3 separate regions of the Homo sapiens genome follow, and regions 1 and 3 are each linked to region 2. A link means that fine-mapping ties the variant in region 2 to the expression of a gene that starts in the linked region. Tissue or cell type: monocytes. Region 2 holds a variant in brackets; each other region holds the start of a gene. All regions are shown on one strand. Distances are between the middles of the regions.

Region 1 (8,180 bases), 38 kb before region 2:
AATGGCTCTACTTTAGCCTCACATGGGAAATTCTGAAAATGAAACTATTTCCAGAGTAGGTTCTGGTTCTGGCATCAACTGACCAAACCACTAACAAAATTACAATAAAGTCAGCACTCGATCATTCTGCCTTTGTAGATAAATCAGTAGTTGGTTCTGAGCTTTCTGAACTGCTGATTTAGTTGTATGGCACGTGGAATACACTTACTTAAATCAAGTAAAAATAGCTGAGTCACTAGAAGGTATCCAAAAATCTGAAAATATAATTTCAGATGTCACCAAAAATTTACTTAAGATTAGTTTTGCTCGAATCCGTTTTATTTCTTATTCTTACAAGATGTAATGCTATCTCAAAGAGTTCTGTCCGCATGGTATTTTTCATACCACATGGCATACTAGTTTTATATTCCAATATTATAATTATTAAAAACAGAAATGTTAGGCAAGTAGATATATACATTGGGGCTGTCTGCAAGTAAGGCACACAAAAGCAAATATTCAACAGAACTCATTAATCAGCTTCTCCCTGGAAATCGCAGGTACTCGTACTTGATGTACAACTGTCTAACTTGGAATATATAACAAAGTGCCACCACACAGTTCAGAGTACTTACACCTGCATAGCATATTTTCGAACAAAGTTCATGTCTATTCCATTTGCTTAGCTCGGCATCTAAGCAGATTTCTTAAGAACCTCATTTCCCTACAGGAAAAATAAGGAAACTGGTTCCCTCAGACACATAAAAAATTGAGGATTAAAAAAAAAAGAGGCAAACCTCTTTTCAAATATTTTGTACCTAATAATCAGGTGTTAGAGGCTAAGTACAGTATATATCATACCAGCACATTGATAGATGAGATAAAAAATTTGTAAGATACCGTATTATATAGTGAAAGAAGACAAGAAATTAACATTTACTCAGCCCCTTCTATGTGGTAAAGATTTTCTCAGTTAATCTCCACAGCAACCCCATGAGGAAGCCATCACTTCTGCTTGTGAAAAAAACTGCAACTCAAGAGATAAGAACCCCAGACTTTGAACTGTGCCAGATCTGTATGTCTGACCTCGCAGTGTAAGCACTTTCTATAAACTATATGAAAGGCACTTGAAATTAAGTATCAAAGTTTAGTTTGAAGGTTGTTATTTATCTAAGAAATTATGAGTGGGAACACTAGAATAAAAATAAAGGTTCTCTAATAACCCTATCCCATAATAAGTACTTCAATTGTGAAATTGTTTTCTTCTTTATTTCTCATTTTATAAGTTTTTCAGCAGTTCTGAAAGTGTCTCAAGTAGGTTAGAAAGAAATTTGACTGCCTATATAATTTATATCACTAAATATTGCTAGAAATATTAGATCCAAAACCAGAAAATACTTAAGCACTAGTGAAGATATAAAAAACATGAAATCTGAACCCAAAATATACATAAACATAAAACTGTGAAAGTTGAGCTCAGTAACCACGTGCAGAGTGAAAACTAGATGAGTTTTTAATCACTAATCACAAACTTCATAGAGCTAAGAATTTGTATAATCTCTCAATCTTGTAAGGCCTACTATATTACTAATGTTACCAGAGCTATTAATACCTGACAATTATAGATGATCCGAAAGATTTCCCTGTCAACAAATTATAGTATCCCTCACCAACTTCAAATAGCTTAACTCTTGTGAAAGGAAACATGTGCCTTCAAAGAAATGTAAAAACCTGCAAGCTTGCTGGGCGCGGTGGCTCACGCCTGTAATCCCAGCACTTTCGGAGGCCGAGGCGGGCGGGTCCCCTGAGGTCAGGAGTTCAAGACCATCCTGGCCAACATGGTGAAACTCCGTCTCTACTAAAAATACAAAACTTAGCCCGGCGTGATGGCAGTTGCCTGTAATCCCAGCTACTCGGGAGGCTGAGGCAGGAGAATCGCTTGAACCCGGGAGGCAGAGGTTGCAGGGAGCTAAGATCGAGCCACTGCACTCCAGCCTAGGGGACAGAGCAAGGCTCTGTCTAAAACAACAACACAAACTACAAGCTTTACAAACTTTGGTGTTATCTGAAAAACTAGAAAGGTTCCATATACAATTATTAAGCACGTATCATTTTTAGGTTACCATTCATGTTTGTGCTCCATATCTGTAGAAATCCCCTTGGACAGTTTTTATTAAAACTTAAATTGTTTGAAAACAAAGATATGCATCTACAGTAGCAGGCTCTGGAGCCAAATATTCTACATCGAATTAACTGGACGAGTTACTTGAACTCTTTGTAATCTGTAAAAGAAATATTTATATAATGGTCTGGACCCAGCGCATCAGTTTTAATTCCCTCCCCACCCCCTCCCCAAACACGGATCAGTCCTATGAATCCTATGGATTCAGAAAACAGAAACAAATTTATAAACTAAAAAACATCAGACACTTATGTCACCCAAGAAGTGGATTCCTTAGAGACTTTTAAAGTATAGGATTACTGGCGTGTCTACAAAAACAGAGAATGGGTCCAGGAAATTATCTTTAAAGTTCGTATGGCTGTTTCCATACTATGTTCAAGGTCTGTTCCTCGATTCAAGGTTATTAAGCGCAACACATTTCCCCTTTTAAACTGCCCTCCTAGTAGCACCACCGATAGTAGGTGGTAACACTGTAAGGAAGGTCGATTCTGTCCCGGGTTCCCGGGTCGGCCGGCAAAGGGTGGTTTCGCCTCCACACTTAAAGTCGGAGAAGGAGGGGCTCGGGGACGCCAGGCGGTTGCCCAGTCAACCAACCCACTTCCTCCTGAAGCCCGGAAGTGACACATGTCCCGGAACCTACGCGGAGCCAGGATCCGCGACGGTCCGAGCTGCTGATCGCCGTCCTGATCCATTGACTGGGAAAGAGGTTGGAAACATCACCGCAAAACATGCTGCAAACCCCGATTCGGACTCCGCTGGGGCCGAACCAACGCCCCCGCACAGCCCCGACTCCCTCCCCAGCAGCCAGCTCGCCACCGCCCCTCTCGCGACCAGCCATTTTCCAGGCCCGCGGGAACGCGCGCCGCGCCCCTCCCACGCCCCTCGTCAAGCCCGCAGGCCCCGCCCCCGGCGCGGGGGCCCTCCCCGCCACACACGCCCCTCTCTTCCTCTCCCGCGGGGGACCCCTCCCCTCTTAACCATTTTGCCGAAAGAACTGGGCTAGGGCTACAACGCGGGGCGCCCGCGAACTTTCCCGGGGCGAGAGAGCGGAACGGACTGCTCTCCTCCGGGCCGGGGCAGGAGCGCGGAGGAAGGCCCCCTCAGTCCGCCTCCGCGGCCTCTCGCCCCCTCCCCCCGCACGTTCCAAAGCACCCGCACTCCGGGGTGGGGGCGAGTGAGGTGGGGAAGCGCGCCCCGCAGACCAGCGGGAGCCCGGCCGCTCACTCCCTCCGACCCTTGCCCGGCTGCAGTCCCGGGCCGGGGCCGCAGGGTCTGCGGCACGGGGCGGGCCAGCGCCTGAACAAATGCTTGCTGCTTAAAATGGCTGATTCCCCTCAGCGGCAGCTGCAGCCGCTGGGTCTGCAGCGGGGGCTGACAAGCGGCCCCCACCCCCACTCTGGGGACCCCAGAGAAGTACTCGCCCACCGCGGGGCCACGGAGGGCCGCCAACCCGGTCTCCAGTCCTCCCAGTCCCGCTCGGCAGACCCTCGGTGCGCTCGGGGAGACTGTCACGGGAGAAAGGGAAGGTGGCACTCCCCCGGACAGGCTCCCCGCCACCGGCTCCCGAGGCCGGCAGCCCCGCGGCTCCTACCTTGATATTTGTTGTCCAGCTCTCGCAGCACAGACACGTTCCTCTGCATGTCGTGGGGCAGCGACTCCACGCACTCAAGGTAGTCCTGCACGTAGCAGGTGAGCAGCCGGCTCCGCTCCCCGGTCAGGAGCGCGGCCGACGAGTACAGTTGCTGCTGCTGCTGCCCTAACATCCTGCCGATCCGCGCCGTCGCCGCCGCCTCCGCATCCAGCAGCCGCACATGCACCGGCCGCGGCCGCCGCGGGCCCTCAGCTCAGCAGCCCGGCGCCGCGGGGACCCCGCAGCCGCTCGAGAGGGCACGGCCGCGCTCCCCGATCTCCACTCCCCCCAGAGCAGCCCTCACTCCCCGCCCCCGCAGCACCAGCCCAGGGGCGGGGCGAAACCGGGGCTCCCTCCTTTCTCCCCTCCCGCTCCAGGACCGGAGCAGTGGGGATCCCCTCGGCGGGGCCGGCGCCGGGGTCCCGGGCGCTGACACTTCCTGTCCCCCTCGGAGTCCCCAGATGCTACGAGTGCCGTCTCGCAGCCCGGATCCCCATGACAAGCCCGTCGCCGCCCGCCTGTCCCCAGTCACCCTCCGTGCCTCACGGAGAGCCTCCCGCTAGCCTGCCCCCGCCCCTCCGCCCGCGGCCGCCTCTGCGCCTGCGCAGCGCTCCCTGCGAATAAGGCCGGGGCCCGCCCCTACCGCCTACCGGAGGGTTCGCATTCTCCCGCCTTCGCTCCGCCGCCCGGGCGATTGGTCTGCCGGCTCTGGGCTAGCGGGGGAGGGTGTGGGGGGCGGCCAAACGGCAGGCCGCGCCCCGCCCCCCTTAAAGGGGAAGCCCGGGGAGCCAGTCTCTGCGCCTCGCGTCTGAATGGGACCCGGGAGGGGAGGCGGCTCGGTCCTTCGTGCCGTCCTCCCCGCTGGGAGGGGCAGCTCCAGCTCCGCTCGGCTCGCTCCGCCCGGCCACACCGGCTTTTTCCCCATCAGGCGGTCCGAGTGCGGCTCCTCGCGAGCCTGCAAAGGAGCAGCAGGCGGTTCCTTTTCGGACGACCTGGAGCGAGGCCTGCGGGACTGCGCGCCCCGGCGGGCGGCGTGCGGCTCCCGGCATGCGCGGCGGCTGCGTTCCCGCCGCCTCCGAGCTCGCCTGGGGCTGCCGCCCGCCTCCTGCCGGGCCCTCGGGCTCGCCCGGCACCGCGGGGCTTGATCAGGGAGGTAGGCGGTGCTCCCTCCGGCCCCCGGCGTCGTGTGCCCTGCGGGTTTCGTGGCCCTTCCCCTACGCTGGAATCTTCTGTGTCATTTAGGGGGAGGGGATGCGGGACGGCATCTGTTTGACAACGCATTGGTCCCACAGACAGCCTTTAAAAACAACTGCTTTTGGGGGGTGTCAGAACATTTAAGCACAGGACGTCGGTGAGGCTTCCTGGCGGAGTGGGGCACACGCCAGCTTTACGGGACTTTTTGCTCAGTCCTGCCCCAGGACTGCAATCGGAGGGGACCTGGGGCATGGAGGAGACGCGAGTGAAAACCTAGTCAGCGGGCGGGCCCTCGGCCCCATAATCTACGTGATCTCCTAGTGGGGTTTAATTTCGGTGTAGTGTAAATGAGATGTCAGGCAGAGGAGCTGATTTTAATTACAGATGGACATTTTTGAAAGAAATGGGTGCAAATAGAATGAATGCATGGATAATTTTAATGGAATGCCTATGTAAACAAGGCCAATTGTGAGTACTACCTTTGAGTTAAAATGTGAGTGAGTGGTGACAAATTTGGATCTTCTTAGATCCAGTTTGCAGCGTTGGTACACCTGAATGGTGACCTATTTAGAGCACTTTTGAAACAGCTGTTAATAGTAACTAGCCTTTGACTTGCAAAGAGAAATCTAGATCTTTATCTAGAGGAAATTTTAAATTTCAAACCAAAATAAAGCACTCCAGGCAATTTGACATCTTGGGACGTCAACTATTTCAAAGGACTGGGAAATTGTCTTGGGTTATTATCCTAGGACACTGAGGTTTGGGCCAGTATTAAGCAACCCAGACAGTACAGTGGATAGTATTTCTGAGAACATTCTGGGATTTTACTGTTCGTGAAATCTTTCGGCCGGGTCTTGTCAAAAAACCGCCACTGTGAAGAACTGAATTTTACTGGTTTTTACTTGAACCCTGCTATTTTTGTTTTCTCACAAGTTTGAATAAGCTGGTCTTTATCAAAGGCGCAAAATAATGTGGGGTGCCTTGTTACAGGTCAGACACCGAATGTACCTATGGATTTTATTCAGTCTGATAAGTGATCTGCAAGTAGATAAGAAATGTGTTTAGAAACTAGAAGGGGAAAAAGGCAAAGATGCAGAATACCTAGAGTACTCCAGAAACAGAGCAAGATGAGAGGAGGGATGAGCATGGGATAGGAGACATTTATAGCATTATTGTCACCTTTTATAATTCTGTTGAACAGGCTGGTAAAAAAGCAAAAACAATCCAAAGAATATTTTAGCTGGTACTGATCTAAAACTGTAAAACACTGTAATATGATAATATATGTATATGTATGAATTATTTTAGGCATGCTTTTCTTGCTATATTTATTTTAAGAGATTAATCTACGGCTTATTCTTGCCACCCCCAAAAAAAATCGCCACAAACCCTAAACCCAACTCTTGACCTTGGTTATTGAGCGCTGTCCTTCCCTTCTGAGTGGTCACTTAACTGGAAATATGGGGCCTCTTCAGATTGAATTTCTTGTCTTCTAAATGCAAAATTTAAAATCTCCCGTTCTCAGCAACTAGAAATTAATTTATGGTATTTAATCCTGTGAATAAAGCAAAAAGGCATTTTATTTGCTCTACAGTGTATTATCTACCATAAAGCAACCCTAAAAAAAAGATAAGTAACTGATCTCCCCAAATTAGTCTGGGATTACCTTGAATTTCTAAGTCTGACTTTAAGAGGTCCCTGGCAGGAAATGTGTACGCCTCCGTACCTGTCTCTTGGGGAGAGCAACAACTTCAAACTGGTTGAAAACAAACTGGCAAGTAATGGTGAAAGATTCCTAAAGATGCCTGCTGAGAAAATTCAGCTTCTGTTTGAGTCAGATCAAATAAATGAAATCCTTTTCTTTTTTCTACTTTTTAATATTTTTAAACTTTTATGGAAATTTTCAAAGGCAAAAGTAATACTACAATAAATCCTTATATACCGTCTACCCAGCTTCAACATTTAGCAACATATGGCTAAGATTATTTAATCTATAGCCCTTCACATTCCCTCACTCTTGCTGGATTTTTATCATTTTATCTGTAAATACTTTAAATATGAATAATATGAATAGGTAAAATATAATAGTTGTTTTTTGTTTGTTTGTTTTTGAGACTGAGACTTGCTTTTGTCGCCCAGGCTGGAGTGCAATGGGGCGATCTTGGCTCTTTGCAACCTCCGCCTCCCAGGTTCAAGCGATTCTCCTGCTTCAGCCTCCCAAGTAGCTGAGATTACAGGTATGTGTCACCATGCCCAGCTAATTTTTGTATTTTTAGTAGAGAGGGGGTTTCACCATGTTGGTTAAAGCTGGTGTGGAACTCCTGACCTCCAGAGATCCGCCCGCCTTGGCCTGCCAAAGTGCTGGGATTACAGACGTGAGCCACCATGCCTGGCCAAGATAACAGTTTTTTAAGCATATCCGTAATACCATGTATTCTGCCTCCCCAAATTTTCTTACTATCATTTAATAACTACACAATTCAAATTTTCCTATTGTCTCAGTAAATCTTTCACATTTGGTTTAACAGGATCCAGCAAATCCCATGCATTTTATTTGGTTACTGAGGTCTTTTCCAAACCAGTAAGAGGCAGTTAATTCCCTGTTTAATTCAGTGAAGCAGAGAGCAATGTTTTTCTGAGGAAGATATTTAAGTAGTTTAAAATCACTGCTTTAAATATGGAGAAATTCAAGAAGAAATCCTCATATGAAAAGTCACCAATTGATAGCGTGTTGTAAGAAATGTAATTGTACCTGATGCAAATAAATAAATCCTTAGTAATCTAGGAGGCTGTGTTAGAGTGTAATTTGTTCTAGAAGGTCCAGTGAAGCATCTTAAATTATAGTGAAAAACCCTAAAACTTTAAATCAATTCATTAGTACAAAAAGCAACTAAAGAAAAACCTAATAGTCCTGTAATCCCAGCACTTTGGGAGGCCGAGGCGGGCGGATCACGAGGTCAGGAGATCAAGACCATCCTGGCTAACACGGTGAAACCCCGTCTCTACTAAAAATGCAAAAAATCAGCTGGGCGTAGTGGCGGGCACCTGTAGTCCCAGCTACTGGGGAGGCTGAGGCAGGAGAATGGCATGAACCCGGGAGGCGGAGGTTGCAGTGAGCGGAGATCATGCCACTGCACTCCAGCCTGGGCGACAAAGCGAGACTCCGTCTCAAAGAAAAAAAAAAAACAAAACCTA
Region 2 (8,180 bases):
GAGAATCACTCAGAACTTTGGTCACTTCACCTCCAAGAGTTTTTTACTTCAATACCTTTCTATAAAGAAAGTAGTGTGTTGTGACTTTGTCAGAATTTTCTTTCTTTACAAGAGGTGAAAATTCTTTTTTTTTTTTTTTTTTTTTTTGAGATGGAGTCTTGCTCTGTCACCCAGGCTGGAGTGCAGTGGTGTAATCTCATCTCACTGCACCTTCTGCCTCCCAGGTTCAAGTGATTCTCCTTCCTTAGCCTCCAGAGTAGCTGAGATTACAGGCGCCCGTCACCACGCCCAGCTAATTTTTGTATTTTTAGTAAAGACAGGTTTTCACCATGTTGGTCAGGCTGGTTTCAAACTCCTGACTTAGGTGATCTGCCCGCCTTGGCCTCCCAAAGTGCTAGGATTATAGACGTGAGCCACCACACCCAGCCAAGAGGTGAAAATTCTTATGGAACCATCCATGCGTGGGACCCTATGGTCCAGATTGTGAGCATGGTTCCTCCAAGACAGAGCTTTTGTTTCCAGGTAGGAAGACAGAACCTTAAATGTGTCTTGGCCTTGAGGTGAATTTTTACAGCAGGAAGGTTTCTTGAGATTCATCATTACTTACAGATCTTCCCAGTGCTACCCAGTGATATTTATTGGTAACGTCTGTTGACTCATCAACCTGAATAAGGAAGCTATTGTTTTCCAGTTCATTACGCAAAATTCTTCAGCATCACAGGAAAGGAATATAAACTTTTTCCTCTGCTCCTTTAGGTTCATTGTCTGGGGCACTGAAGATTAGACTGATGAAAGACAGATTAACAGGAGAAAAGACATACAAATTTTATTTGATCTTAATCTTTATATATAAGGGCCTTCCTGGAAAAGAAGTGAAGAGCCAAATAAGCAGATAGATCTGAGAGCTTATATACCATCTTCAACAAAGAGCAATAAATTGTGGAAAAGTGACAAGACAAAGGACTTTTTTTTAAGAGAGATGGGGTCTTGCTATGTTGCCCAGGTTGGCCTGGAACTCCTGGCTTCAAGCAATCCTCCCACCTCAGTCCTGAGTAGTTGTGACTACAGGTATAGCCACCACACCAGCAGGAAAAGGGTTTTAAGCTTCTAGGGGCTGCCCTCTGTGGGATCATAGACATATGGGGAAAGTAATGGAAGATAAGGGTTAATTTAGTAAGGTTGGTTTGTGCAGGTCCATCTTGGTGCCAACTTTCTGTTTTCTTCATGGTCATAAAATGTCCCTGGGAGAGGAGATTTATGGCAGTTCTCATTTCTCAGGCATTTCTGCTTTTAGTCAGATAGGGAAAGCCCCAGGAAGGTTCTCTTTGCATCTGCTAATTCTCAAATGCCTTCAGCTCAAAATAATTCATATGCCACAGTGGCATATTTTGGGGTAGCATATTCCAATCCTCTTCCACATCATGTGACATGTCATCACTATGTTGAGCTATACTGTTGAAAGTGGAACCTTGTCAACTTCTTATACTGCATCTTATCTTGTCGTTTTACTCACTGTAATTTTACATGCTGGCCTAATGAGATTCTCACCAATGGTGTGACTTTTCCTTTTTTGAGCAATTAGTCCAGCTAGTAAATAAGTTGCTGTAAGCCTTTCCACTGAATGTGATTATCTTTTCTTTTCATTCTTTCTTTCTTTCTTTTTTTTTCTTGCGAGAGCTTTCCCTGTTTGGAATTTCCAATAGTCATTTAAAAAACATCAGCACTTTTACTATTAAATGGCTGTGATTTGTAGGTAGGTTCTTTTCCAATTTTTTGGAGCCACTGCTGTATTTGTAAGATGACACTCAACATATAACAGACTAGGCCAACTTGAATTACCAGACCACCTAAAACTCATCAACAAGTAACTTTGATTGTTACTTTTTGGTGCATCCTTAATCATATTAATGCTGAATCATGAAATGACTCAGAAGGTTGTAATTAGCTTTAATCAGAATTATTCACAGGTATAAGCCTATGAATACTGCTCTTCCATTTAGTATATTTTCCTTAAAAACTGCTACATTTAACCATCAGACTTTAAAAAACACCAACAAACATGAACAGAGGGCATAATAAATATTAGACGAGAATTGCAAGCAAAAGTTAATAAGTAATAATACAGTTCACTTCTACCCTGCACAATCCATGTGTTGCAATGTTTACAGCAGCAAAACAACAGGAATGGGCAGCTGAGTCACAGTGCATTAAAATTCTTCTTTTAGAATGAAACTTTCACTCCAGTTTTCCAACGGCGAGAGCTTATTTACTGCTGTCAGTCATGGCATCCGAGAGGAGATTGGGGGACTGAGGTGATTCGGTATGCAGAGGGTGATGTCTCAGCCCACTGTGGCACATGCATTCTGGAACTCCTCTGTCCCATAGAGACTTCAAACATTTATTGTCCACCCCCCACACTGGAACATAAGGTTTGGTGATGTGCAAAAGCAGGTCATCCCTGTCCACAAACACTTAACGCTTAGTGTACTTGTGTATTTTAAACTTGATTCTTTAAAATGCTACAATTTTCTATCCACAAAGACGGATACTCTGTCAAAGGATTTTGCCTTGCAGATTTTTTCTATGTAAACAGATATATTAGTCTGTTTTCACACTGCTGAAAAAACATACCCAAGACTGGGAAGAAAAAGGCTTAATTGGACTTACAGTTCCACATGGCTGGGGAGGCCTCAGAATCATGGCAGGAGGCAAAAGGCACTTCTTACATGGTGGCGGCAAGAGAAGATGAGGAAGAAGCAAAAGCAGAAACCCCTGATAAACCCATCAGATCTCATGAGACTTATTCATTATCATGAGAATAGCATGGGAAATACCGGTCCCCATGATTCAATTACCTCTCCCTGGGTCCCTCCCACAACATGTGGGAATTCTGGGAGATACAATTCAAGTTGAGATTTGGGTGGGGACACAGCCAAACCATATCATTCTTCCCCTGGCCCCTCCAAATTTCTGTCCTCACATTTCAAAACCAATCATGCCCTCCCAACAACCCCCCAAAGTCTTAACTCATTTCAGCATTAACCCAAAAGTCCACAGTCCAAAGTCTCACCTGAGACAAGGCAAGTCTCTTCCACCTATGAGCCTGTAAAATCAAAAGCAAGCTAGTTACTTTCTAGATACAATGAGGGTATAGGTATCAGATAAATAGAGTCATTCCAAATGGGAGAGACTGGTCAAAACAAAGGGGTTCCTGGGCCCGTGCAAGTCCAAAATCCAGCAGGCAGTCTAATTTTGAAGGTCCAAAATGATCTCCTATGACTCCAAGTCTCACATCCAGGTCACGCTGATGCAAGAGATGGATTCCCATGGTCTTGGACAGCTCCACCCCTGTGGCTTTGCAGGGTACATCCTCCCTCCCAGCTGCTTTCATGGGCTGGCATTGAGTGTCTGTGGCTTTTCCAGGTGCACAGCGCAAGTTGTCAGTAGATCTACCATTCTGGGCCCTGGAGGATGGTGGCTCTCTTTTCACAGCTTTGCTAGGCAGTGCCCCAGGAGGGAGTCTGTGTGGAGGCTCTGACCTCACATTTCCCTTCTGCATTGCCCTAGCGAGGTTCTCCATGAGGACCCCACCACTGCAGCAAACTTTTGCTTGGGCATCTGGGCATTTCCATATATCTTCTGAAATCTAGGCAGAGGTTGCCAAACAATTCTTGACTTCTGTGCACTTGCAGGCTCAACACCATGTGGAAGTTGCCAAGGCTTGGGGCTTCCACCCTCTGAAGCCACAGCCCGAGCTGTGTGTTCGCCCCTTTCAGCCACAGCTGGAGGGGCTGGGACGCACAGCACTGAGTCCCTAGGCTTCACACAGCACAGGGACCCTGGCCCTGGCCCACAAAACCACTTTTTCCTCCAGGGTCTCTGGGCCCGTGATGGGAGGGGCTGCCATGAAGGTCTCTGACATGGCCTGGAGACATTTTTCCCATGGTCTTGGGGATTAATATTAGGCTCCTTGCTACTTACACAAATTTCTGCAGCTGCACTGAATTTCTCCCGAGAAAATTTTTTTTTTTCCTATTGCATAGTCAGGCTGCAAATTTTCTGAACTTTTATGCTCTGCTTCCCTTACAAAACTGAATACCTTTAGCAGTACCCAAGTCACCTCTTGAATACTTTGCTGCTTGGAAATTTCTTCCAGATACCCTAAATCATCTTTCTCAAGTTCAAAGTTCCACAAATCTCTAGGGCAGGGGCAAAATGCTGTCAGTCTCTTTGCTAAAACATAACAAGAGTCACCTTTGCTCCAGTTCCCAACAAGTTCCTTATCTCCATCTGACACCACCTCAGCCTGGATCTTATTGTCTATATCGCTATCAGCATTTTGGAAAAAGCCATTCAACAAGTCTCTAGGAGGTTCCAAACTTTCCCACATTTTCCTGTCTTCTTGTGAGCCCTCCAACCTGTTCCAACCTCTGCTTGTTACCCAGTTCCAAAGTCGCTTCCACATTTTCAGGTATCTTTTCAGCAACACCCCACTCTAATGGTACCAATTTACTGTATTAGTCTGTTTTCATACTGCTGATAAAGACATATCTGAGACTGGGAAGAAAAAGAGGTTTAATTGGACTTACAGTTCCATGTGGGCTGGGGAGGCCTCAGAATCATGGGGGGAGGTGAAATTCACTTCTTACATGGCAGCACCAAGAGAAAATGAGGAAGAAGCAAAAGC[G/A]GAAACCCCTGATAAACCCATCAGATCTTGTGAGACTTATTCACTATCACAAAAATAGCAAGGGAAAGACTGGCCTGCATGATTCAATCACCCCCCCTCCGCCGGGTCCCTCTCACAACATGTGGGAATTCCGGGAGATACAATTCACATTAAGATCTCGGTAGGGACACAACCAAAACATATCAGCATAGTAATTGGTATTTTCCTTTAATGGCTTCTGAATTTTGTGTCAAAGTTAGAAAGCACCAGCCCCCACCCCACACCATACTTCAAGATTAATTTGCTCATGTTAGTACTTTCATAGTTTTACACTTTATATTTAAGTCTTTGAATTTATCTTGGTGTAAGTTGGAGAGCAGAGATGGATCTTAATTTCATTTCCAATTTGCTACTTAATTTAGTTTTTGATTAAGCTATCTTTCTCCCACTAGTTCAAAATGCTGCTTTTATCATATTTTATATTCCCTAGAAAATTTGACTGATTTCTGAACTTTCTATTTTCTCCCATTTATCTCCTATCTTGTTATGCTCCACTACTATACAATTTTAACTTTTATGACTCCAAGGGTTAAAATATGTTTTTATTTATAGGGTTAAAATATGTTTTAATATCAGGTAGGGATAATACCCCTTCATTATTCTTTTTTTTTCTGAGTTTTCCTGACTACTTATATTTTTTTTCCTACAAACTTTTGAATCAGCTTATCTAGTATACAAATCCTCTTGGTATTTTTCTTGGGATCATGTTAAAATATAGATAAACAAACATAACTATTACACTTATGAAGTTAATTTTTGTATCTAAGAGCTTTATGTGTTTTCCTGTTTGTTGAAAAATTCCTTCTTGTCCCTTAGTATTTCAATGTTTTCTGCATGCAGATTTTAAATGCTTCTTTATCACTAAATAGTTTATTTTCTGTTGCTATTGTAAATAAGGTCTTCTCTATTATGTCTTCTGGTTGGTTATTTTTATATTCTAAAGCACCAGATTTGTATTGGTATTTGGCATTAATTTCATACCCAGGTACTTGACTGAATTCACTTATTTATTTAGATTTTTAAATTGATTATGGGTGGAAATTCTAGTATACAATTATATCTAAATAACAATGATTTTACCTTCTTTCCAATGTTTAAACATATATTTCTCTCATTGAATTTTTTTTTTTTTAAGACAGAATTTCGCTCTTGTCGCACAGCTGGAGTGCAATGGCAGGCTGGAGTGCAATGGCACCGTCTCAGCTCACTGCAACCTCCACCTCCCAGATTCAAGCAATTCTCCTGCCTCAGCCTCCCAAATAGCTGGGATTATAGGCATCCACCACCATGCCTGGGTAATTTTTGTATTTTAGTAGAGACGGGGTTTCACCATGTTGACCAGGCTGGTTTTCTCTCATTTAATTATATTGCTTTGTAGCAGGATGGGCTGCAGGCAAAACTCCTCAGACACCGGCTGAAAGAGGGAAGAGGCTTTATTTAGCTGGGAACCTTGGCAGACTTGCATCTCAAGAACCAAGCTCCCTGAAGAAAAAATTCCTGGCCTTTTTGAGAGGTGAAGCGAGCTGGACTTCCTGGGTTGAGTGGGGACTTGCAGAACTTTTCTGTCTAGCTAGAGGATTGCAAACGCACCAGTCAGCACTCTGTGTCTAGCTAAAGGATTGTAAACACACCAATCAGCACTGTGTAAAAATGCACCAGTCAGCGCTCTGTGTCTAGCTAAAGGACTGTAGACGCACCAATCAGCACTCTGTAAAAATGCACCAATCAGCACTCTGTGTCTAGCTAAAGGATTGTAAACGCACCAATCAGCACTCTATAAAAGCGCACCAATCAGCGCACTGTGTCTAGCTAAAGGATTGTAAACGCACCAATCAGCATTCTGTGTCTAGCTAAAGGATTGTAAACGCACCAATCAGCACTCTGTAAAAATGCACCAATCAGCACTTGGCATCTAGCTAAAGGATTGTAAGTGCACCAATCAACACTCCGCAAAAACACACCAATCATCACTCTGTGTCTAACTAAGGGATTAAATGCACCAATCAGAACTCTGTAAAAATGCACCAGTCAGCACTCTGTAAAATGGACCAATCAGCACTCTGTAAAATGGACCAATCAGCAGGACATGGGTGGGGACAAATAAGGGAATAAAAGCTGGCCACCCCCCAGCCAGCAGCGGCAACCTGCTCAGGTCCCTTTCCACTCTGTGGAAGCTTTGTTCTTTCGCTTTTCACAGTAAATCTTGCTGCTGCTGACTCTTTGGGTCCACACCACCTTTAAAAGTTGTAACACTCGCTGTGAAGGTCCGCAGCTTCATTCTCGAAGTCAGTGAGACCAAGAATCCACCAGAGGGAACCAAGTCTGGACACACTTTTAAGGGCTTACAACTCTATGGGGGTCTACGTGAAAGATATCCAGCAAGTGATCTATAGGTAATACACGTAGTTAGAGTGGGGGGTTAATCTTTAACCTCAGGCCTGGTCAGTGGCACCGGTTGGTCTTGCCACTGACTTCATTTCTGTTGTTTTTCAGCTTTTACTTCCTCCTTCTCTTCAGGGACAGGAAACAGTAAGAGAAATGGCGTATCTCCTCAGCTTAAGATAGTACTTGCCAGGCAGGGTGGCTCACACCTGTAATCCCAGCACTTTGGGAGGCTGAGGTGGGTGGATCATGAGGACAGGAGTTCAAGACCATCCCGACCAACATGGTGAAAACCCCATCTCTACTAAAAATACAAACATTAGGTGGGCGTGGTGGCACGCGCATGTAATCCCAGCTACTCAGGAGGCTGAGGCAGGAGAATTGCTTGAACCTGGGAGGCGAAGGTTGTAGTGAGCCGAGATCGCGGCATTGCACTCCAGCCTGGGCAACAGAACAAGACTCCATCCCCCCACCAAAAAAAAAGTGCTTATCTTGTCCATAACTTAGCAGGAGTGTTTCAATATTACATCCACGCTGTTTCCATATTAAACAGATTCTTTGTGGTTGAGATAAATATATTTCATTATGCTAACAACGTATTTGTATACTCCTGTTAAGAACTTACATCAAGTATGAATATGGAATTTTTCCAATGTCTTTGATAGCTTTTTTAGACATGAGTAGTTATGTGCTGCATGACGATGTTTTGGTAACAATGGACCATGTATACCGTGGTGGTCCCATAAGATTATAATGGAGCTGAAAAACTCCTATCACCTAGTGCTATCATAGCCATCATAACACAATGCATTACTCACGTGTTTGTGAAGATGTTGGTGTAAAGAAACCTACAGAACTGCCGGTCATCTAAAAGTATAGCACATACAATCATGCACAGCACATAATGAAAGGCTTGATAATAAAGGGATATGTTATTGGCTTATGTATTTACTATCCTATATTTTTCATTGTTATTTTTGAGTGTACTCCTGCTTTGCGGTGTCTCACGCCTGTAATTCTATCACTTGGGGAGGCCAAAGCCGGCGGATCACTTGAGGTCAGAAGTTTGAGC
Region 3 (8,180 bases), 22 kb after region 2:
CTCAAAAATGAATCATTTTTAAAGGTTATATGGTAAAATTAAAACATCTGATTATGTAATTATGTAATTCTAGCATAAAAAATTAAAGTATCTTTTTATTCCTAGAATACAAAATAGGAATAACTGCTACATACTTAAATTGTGCTTACGTTTGATTTTCCTATTCCAACACAACTGGCCCATGAAAGGTCTTTCTTTTCTCTCTATATTATCACCATTATTGCTCAATGGGCAGTATCTAAAAATAGAATCTAGAAAGCCAGAAACCACAAAAATAACATCTTGGGGCCAGTTTGAAGCAAAGTAAACAGAATATACAATGACAGACAAACAGGCAGAATCACCTAAGACGAAAACAAAATTCCACTTCATTTTAACGAATGTAGTTAAATTGAATAGGCTCATTATCAAGAGCTGAACACGGCTCTCTGTTCTTTCCGGTATTCTAAAAGATGCATAAACACAAAAACCATCCAGTTCTAGATTTGAAAATTGAAGGGAATCGCTTTTAATCTATTCTGGCTCAGGGGATTGCTGTAAAAAAAAAAATTAAATAAAGATGTATATCACACAATTACCTGGTTGTCTAATTTATAATGACAAGTCATGGGAAGCCTATTTGCAGGAATTGGTTCTGACTTGGAGAAAAAAAACACAACTTCTTGAAAAGGTAAAATAGCTTAAAGCATTTAATATCTAAACAAATCAATCTGTTAATAGTAGTCACAAAATATGCTTAATATAGAAACCCACATTCATGTTTTTAAGAAAAAAGTGTAAATTGTATTCCACCTCAAAACATAAATTAACCCGCTTAAAGAATCTTCAGCGGTCAAAGTCATGGTGAATTTTAAACAACTTCAGAGTAAAATAACAAGTACTTTATACTGCTTTATATCTAAAAAATGCTTACAACTTCTCATAAAAATAGTTTGAAGCAACTATTTTTTCTTTTATTTTTTAACAGACACGTTCAACATTACGGGCAACATTTTTAAAACCTTAAGCTTTACAGACTTTCAAACATTCAAATACTGTGGTCCCTTTCCTTTGATGTGGTTTATTCAGCTAGAAAAGAAAACATGGTAGACAACTTAATACATTTTCACCAAATTGAAAGTAGTACAAAAATTTTAGGACTCTACCGAACTACACATCGTACCTAATGTATCATTAAAAATAGAAGACAGTATTTTCTTCAGCAAATAAAACAGCATACTAATATGCTGCTAATGCATACCTTTTAATGTGTACTGTCATTCATAAATTATTTACAACTGCTACTGTGTGAAGAGAACTAGAATGTAAATTTTCTGCAAAACTGGAAAAAAAGCAATACAAAATTTGTGAAAGCCTGTGTTTTATACTATACAAAAGTCAGTTTTTCTCTTCAAATACCAGATATTGTATGCAGTGATATTTTGGACACATTATAGTAATTCTTGAGGATGTTTTAGTGCTGGAGGTAAGTTTACAGGCCTCGATTCTTCATCAAGGAGTACTAGATCTTCTATTTCACTGCCTCTGTATTTCCTTTTACATATTTTTACCACCACCTTTTTCTTGAGAAATAACTTCAATGCTTCTCTTGATGCAACTGCTTTTGCATTTTCTTTGCTTTTTCCACAGCCAGTGCCCAAATACACAGACTTGCACCTCAATTCACAAACAATACTTTCTTGAGAGCTCTTATTTTGAGGCAGATCTGCCAATTCTTTTAGTGGGACAAAAAATACATCCAGTGTTGCTTTCAGAGCCTCAATAGCTGCATTTAGGAGCTCTCCATGATTCACATTGGGACTAAAGCCACCAACAGCTACCAACTTCCATGCCACCGTTTTATATAGTCTATTGAAAAAAGGTTGCTTCTGTTTCACATCTTCATTGGTTAACTTGCAAGAGAATTTGACAGAACTCTCACTTGACTGTGAAGTACTTTTAGAAGGCAACTGTGAGGTGCTAGTCTGAGAACTACTCTTAGAAGCCAACTGGGACACACTTGCTAAGGAAGTGCTTTTGGAAACCAGAGATCCACTGGTCTGGGAGCTGCTCTTGGAAGCTAGTAGTGATGCAGCTACCTGGGAAGTGCTCTTGGAAGTTAGCAGCGATGTATTTGTTGAAGAGCTGCTCTTGGGAGTCAGTAAGGATGTGCCTGATGAGGAACTGTTTTTAGCAACTGATGATGAAACACTTGCCTCTGAACTAGTTTTGGAAGTTAACCCACTTGAAGCTGTCTCTGAACTAGGTTTGGAAGACAATAGTGGCAATTCTACCTCTGAGCTTCCTGAGGAGCCCAACAAGGGCACCTCGATCTCTGAGCTGCTTTGAGAAGCTGAGGCTGAAGAGCCTTCCAAAGCACTCTTTTTAGGTGATCCACTTTGTTGTCTAGAATCAGTGGATTGGGTCATGTGACTATTCACACTGGATTTCAGCAAGGAAACAAATGATGCAGAACCGTGTTTATCTGGAGCTTCTGCTTCAGAAGCTTTCCCAGATCCTGCCGTTGTTACCTGAGAGGAAACGCTGCTGCTGCTTTGGCTGGAAACAGATCGATCTCCATCACTTGTAGAGCTATTCTGACTGGAGATGCCAGAGCTCCGAGCTGAGTTCCCACTCTCTGATTTGATGGCCGACCCTATACACGTTGAACTGTTTTCCTGCTGAGCTGATGCACGTTCTGTCTTGGCAGAGGTTTTTGCGTGATCTTGCTCAACTGCAGAACTGTTTTTTCCTTCTATAACTCGTTTTTTGGATGGCTCTTCTACCCCTTCTAAAAAGAAGAAAAACATAGATATGTGACTAAGAATACCTCGTACAAAACGGGTGATGAGACAAATACACATTAAAATAAAGGCACAAAGTGAAAACATTTCAAGACTAATCGTTTCTTTAAAAAGTGTGGAGTCATTAATTTCTTAAAACAGTGTTGAATAACATCATGAATGTCTAATATTAAAAAAATAACAGCATCAGACAACAGTGGACACTTCAAAATCTAAAGCAGTCAAAGCAAACTATCAAATTCAAAGCCTAAAGACACAGATATATACTTTAGGTTTAACATTCCAACTTTATTACTTATTAATAACATAAAAATTCTGGCTTGTTAAAAAAATTAGTAACAATAATTCCTAATTATATCAAACTTATGCTCTAAACTCCTATGTATGTTCACATCTATGATCTGCTAACCATTGCTACTCGATATCCCTCTTTTCTTCACCTTGGCAACCAGTTCATCTCTTGTTGTATAGGTTGGAGCATCTGTCACTTTGATGCCTTCAGCCATACTAAGTATTTTATCCATAACTTTTTGAGGGTATCTGAAAAAGAAGGAAAAGTCATTTTTAAAAAGTGTTTTTTCTAAGGTCCTACTTGTGCAAAAAACAGGCCACAGGGACTGCATTTCCTGGCTGCAATCAAGAAAGTGAACCAACCGCCAAGAACTGTTTCCTGGAACCCCATAAACAAGTGCCCCAGGGTCTGGGAGGCAGGGCACCTCCTCACTAATCTTAAATCTCGCACCCGTCCCCAAGAGCGTTGTTCCCTAACACAAGCAACCCTACCAGCAGCTGCGCCCACACCACCGGGCACACAGACGTCCGGGAATCATGTCGGCTCCTCGCAGGGACGCCCTTCTCCCCCTTAGAGGGCAGCCGGGCCGGCGGATTCCCGCGCTTCACAACTTCCCCTCCCCGCCGAGGCCGGTCCCGCGGAGGGCGCCGGGCCCCGGTCTGCAGGTGGCACACAAAACGAGGCGTGCTGGTTAGGGACGCTGCCTCACTCACCGGCACCCGAGGAAGACGTGGTTCGCCCAGGCCATGGAAAAGGAGATGAGCTGCTGCAGCTGCCGGTTTCGGGTCCCGCTCTCGGCGTCGGCAGCTTCATCCGTGCTAGCGGAGGCAGCGCCGCCAGCGGGGGCCAGGTCCCCGGCGTTGCGAAGCAAAAAATCCCGGCGGTGGCGCCAGTGTTTGTCAGTCTCGCCGTCGCAGCGCAGCGCCTCCACCCAGGCTGCCACCCGCGGGTTCTGGCTCAGGTACTCCGACACCTCCTGCGCCATGTTGGGCCTGCAGGCCGCGAACACAGCTGCACCGGGAGACAGGCAGGACTAGCGGGGCGAGCGGCCCTGTCACTGCGGCCTGCACCCGCGGCCCTCCAGATAACGCCCCTCCGCAGGCCTAAAGACCAAACAACAGCGCCCAGAGCCGCCGAACCGCCCACTTCCGCCCACCGCCGGCTTCTTCCCTTTTATAACCTCGCCGCCGCCGCGCGCCCTCGCGTTCTTCCGGCGCGAGCCGGCGCTCCCAAGACGCTTTGCGGCGCCGGGGCCGCTGCGACGCTGCGTCCCCGTGAGGCCACGGAGGGCACCCCGGGGGTGAGGTGGGCGGGCGTCGGGCGTCTCCCGCCCCACGAGGGCGGACTGCAAGTCGAGCTGGCCTGGGACGACCGAGTCTCGGCGGAACCCCGGGCGTTCTGTCCTCGCTTTGTGACGCCGCGCGCTCCTGCCGTCCTCCTCCCCCGCCGGGTCAGCTGCGGCGCCGGGAGCAGAGGCGAGAGGGGCAGGGCCCGGGCAAGGGAGGCAGCCGGGCGCGGCGGCCAAAGTCCGCTAGGGGGGCGTCCCGGGGGACCTTGAGCCGCCCGCAGCCGCGGGGCCTGTGGTCTCCGCCCTGAGACGCCTGTGTGTGAGCGGGGCCAAAACAAACAAAAGCCGGCCTCCATGTTAGAGTGTTGGGAGCTGCGTCTCGCGCTGCTTTCAGTGTGCCCGAGCGAAGCGTTCCGAGGCCGTCGGGGTCTCCGCGCCTTCAGGAGGGCGGGAGTGCCAGTCCCCTTACATAGCAGCAGTAGACAGTAAGGTCACACGAGGACCTGGCTCCGTGTTGCCGTGAGGCTTGCAGCCTTCGAAGCTGGCCCTGGCCCCGCAGCGGTAGGGCTTGTTCCCGCAGTTTATTAGGTCTCTAGTTAATCCAGGCATTGCCTTCCTGTTCTGGTCAGTAGGAAAACAACACCCCGACAACGCTCTGTCTCTAGAATTTCCTAAAATCAACAGCTTTACCACCAACCGGCAGATGTCCGGAGGTGGAGTGGAAATGTACCTATTTATCTATAGGGCCCCAAACCTCTCTCCCTGTTAGAGCTGTTTTTTCCTTCTATATATTTTTTTCCACTTTACATTTCCCACAGTTACGTACTCTAACTGCTGGCTGGCTTATTGTTACGTTTCCCATTCCAGGTATACATGCACTGTAAGATAAATACGTTAAATGATATAAATTATGAAATTTTTCTTTCAATAAATGTAGACTTTGATGTAAAAATGCATGAATCAGAATAAGCAAGCAAAAAAAGGTCACTTTAGGTAAGATCAGATAAGGTTAACTGTGTAATTTATGTGCATGCTGGAACAAAATACAGCTATTGTATGAAAACAATATTGCCCATTTTCCTGCCATACCAAAAGAAACTACATAAAAACGGAGGCACAAAGAAATTTTGAAGCTTTGTGATTTTGCTTCTAGTTTGCTGTTCTTTCCTCCTTTTCACAGATAATTGCTGAAAATCTAGAGGGGGTGGACGGATTGCAGAAATCTGGCTATTTAAAAGGTGGAGAAATTACGATTTCTCCTTTCATGAATTCTTTGGCAAGGGGACCATGGCAAGTAAAAGAAGCTATGATCGCATACCTAGATTATATATGTGCATTTTAAATCAAGAATGTTCTCACGGCCAGGTGCAGTGGCTCACGCCTGTAATCCCAGCACCTTGGGAGGCCGAGGCGGACGAATCATGAGGTCAGGAGTTCGAGACCAGCCTGGCCAATGTAGTGAAACCCCATCTCTACTAAAAATACAAAAGTTAGCCAAGTGTGGTGGCACGTGCCTGTAGTCCCAGCTACTCTGTAGGCCGAGGCGGGAGAATCGCTTGAACTCAGGAGGCAGAGGTTGCAGTGAGCCGAGACCAAGCCATTGCACTCCAGCCTGGGTGACAGAGTGAGACTTCATCTCAAAAAATAATAATAATAATGTTCTCACTTTTTTTCTTGTTGCCCTGTAGTCTTCTTCCCACTCATGGGCTTCATTGCCTTGAAAGGAGAACAAGTAGAGCCTGAATTTCAAACAATTTTTTTAATTATAATAAAAGCGATAGAGTCTGAAAGATGGAGTACTTGTGCAAAAACCAGGTGCTTGGAATAAAAGATACATGCATTTTTCTTTTTTGATTCTTAAAAAGTTGACTTTGCATATAAAGATTCAAAGACTATGAACCACAAGTAGCTGGGACTGCAGGCGGGTACCACGACGACAGGCTAATTTTTTATTTTTTTGTAGAAACAAGGTTTCACTGTTGTCCAGGCTGGTTTTGAACTCCTAATATCAAGCAATTCTTCTGCCTCGGCCTCTCAAAGTGCTGGGATTATAGGCATGAGTCGCTGTGCCCGGCCTCATTTTTTTTTAAAGACCCTCCCACCTACAGAGACAAATTCCTCTCTAAGCTGGGGGAGACGTTCTGAGAGAAAAGGTGAGAGGAGAATTTAGGTGATAACTAGGAAAGTCTATGGGAGTAGGGAATAAGATGCAGGGTGGGAAGTGTTGGCTGTTAGAAATTGCTAGGTAGATTTTGGGTCTAAGAGCAGAAGGACTTGGCTCTGCCCGAGTTTCTGAGAGAAGACAGCCCAATCGTGCCCTGAGCCTGTATGCGTTGGCCTTTAGAAATGAACATAGAAAGGGCCTTTTATAGCTTTGATAACCAACTATACAACTCCCTCCTCTGCTCCTAACACACGTGTGTATATATATATACATATGTGTGTGTGTATATATACATAACACACACACACGCATTTACGCACATATATCTCACAGGGCCTAGAGGAGATCCAAAAGGTTCCCAAGAAAGAGTTGAATGGTGAAGTGCCTACCAAGCACCAGGGTCCAAGGTGAATGAGGCTAGGGGTGGTCAGCTTGTCAGCAAAGGGAGATGCAGCTAGTTTTCAGCAAGTCATCAGACCAGTGCCCGTCAGGCCGCATCAATAGGAGAGGACCCTCAACCTCTCCTGAAATGATCAGTGTGCATTGCTTGTGCTGGTAGATCAAGCAGTTATACTCCCAGCAGAGCCCACAGGGAAGAAAGCACAAGACAATGCTAGGATGATAACCAAGCCTCACCCCACCACTGCCCTCACTAGAAATCTACTCAGAGGAGAAAAGGGAGAGAATTCTAATGAATTGAGAAAGATCCACTATCATCCCAAATTGAGTTTCAAACAAGTGACTGAGTTCACAGGATTAAATTTTCTGCTGTAAGTGGAAGCCCATTCACTGAAACTGGTTCTGTAGCATATCTCTCTGAAGACATCCAATAAAAATTCCAGCGGCAAGCTGGCTTTTCTGCAGATGGCTTTCCCATGGAGCAACATGAAGGGATTGCCCCTGTTCCTGGATGTGACTGTGGAAGCAAGAAAGCCTTTGGCAGGAAGGTCTGCATGTGGAGAGGCTTGTGAGGAGCAAATACTCCAGTTATGGCCAAGGTTATGACTTGATGTGAGAAATACTTCATGGTGAGGGGAAATATTTTATGCTAATGATGTGTGAGGACACAAATCTGCCAAATTACAGTGATAAGGTGGGATGTTCTGAAAAAGTAAGAGAATGTTTTAAGAGTGATCCCCTCTGTTAGAAGCTTTGAGAAATCAAGTAGGATGAAGATAGGTAGTAACAGTCTGATTACGGACTGGAGCCACCTGTGAGCTTGGCAAAAGCCGTTTTTACTGCAGTGATGAAGACTCCATATCAGAGTGAGTTCAGGAGTCGGAAATGGAGATATTTGGCTGTAAAGGGGAGAAGATAGAGGAAGCTGGACAGGGTCATGGGGTCAAGGTGGCTTCAATTTCAGATGGGAGTAGCCTGAGCATGTTGCCCACTGCTTGAAGGCAACTCACAGAAAAGGAGAGTTTGAGGATCTGAAGAAAAAGAGGGTAATTAGCAATTTCTGCAGACATAGGTGTGGCTGGGATCCACACACAGGTGGAGAGATTAACCTTAGGTGGGCAGACACTTCCTCTGTTTTAAAAGAAGACGTTTGTAAGTTTGGAGCTGAGACGTTGACATGGAGGCCATCTGATGGTGCAGAGAATGCTCGCAATGGATATTTTAGAGGGCAGAAGAGCAGGCTGCCTAGATGAA

Evidence for each region. PIP is the estimated chance that this variant, and not a neighbour inherited with it, causes the effect.
Region 1: it holds the start of ING2, and the variant in region 2 is fine-mapped to the expression of ING2 in monocytes (Quach 2016, PIP 0.95). The same link has a PIP of 0.9 or more in monocytes after LPS, monocytes after Pam3CSK4 and monocytes after R848.
Region 3: CDKN2AIP starts here. The variant in region 2 is fine-mapped to the expression of CDKN2AIP in monocytes (TOPMed, PIP above 0.99). The same link has a PIP of 0.9 or more in blood mononuclear cells, macrophages after interferon gamma, monocytes after LPS, monocytes after Pam3CSK4, monocytes after R848 and monocytes after interferon gamma.

The regions. Positions count from the first base shown.
Region 1 is chr4:183,500,940-183,509,119 of GRCh38, reverse strand. It overlaps ING2 (inhibitor of growth family member 2), which reads right to left and starts at 4,062. Exons shown (of 2, transcript NM_001564.4): 1 at 3,753-4,062. The coding sequence starts at 3,924. It overlaps ING2-DT (ING2 divergent transcript), which reads left to right and starts at 4,605. Exons shown (of 3, transcript NR_033995.2): 1 at 4,605-4,944. RefSeq lists silencers at 2,711-2,760, 3,001-3,720, 3,941-4,980.
Region 2 is chr4:183,462,619-183,470,798 of GRCh38, reverse strand. No RefSeq gene overlaps it. Among named protein-coding and RNA genes, the nearest start is that of CDKN2AIP, 22 kb to the right of the region's middle. The variant G/A (reference allele first, on the strand shown) is at 4,688.
Region 3 is chr4:183,440,678-183,448,857 of GRCh38, reverse strand. CDKN2AIP (CDKN2A interacting protein) reads right to left here and starts at 4,222. Exons shown (of 3, transcript NM_017632.4): 1 at 3,789-4,222; 2 at 3,193-3,323; 3 at 1-2,770. The coding sequence starts at 4,060. The coding sequence ends at 1,431. RefSeq lists an enhancer at 3,768-3,917 and a silencer at 4,198-4,747.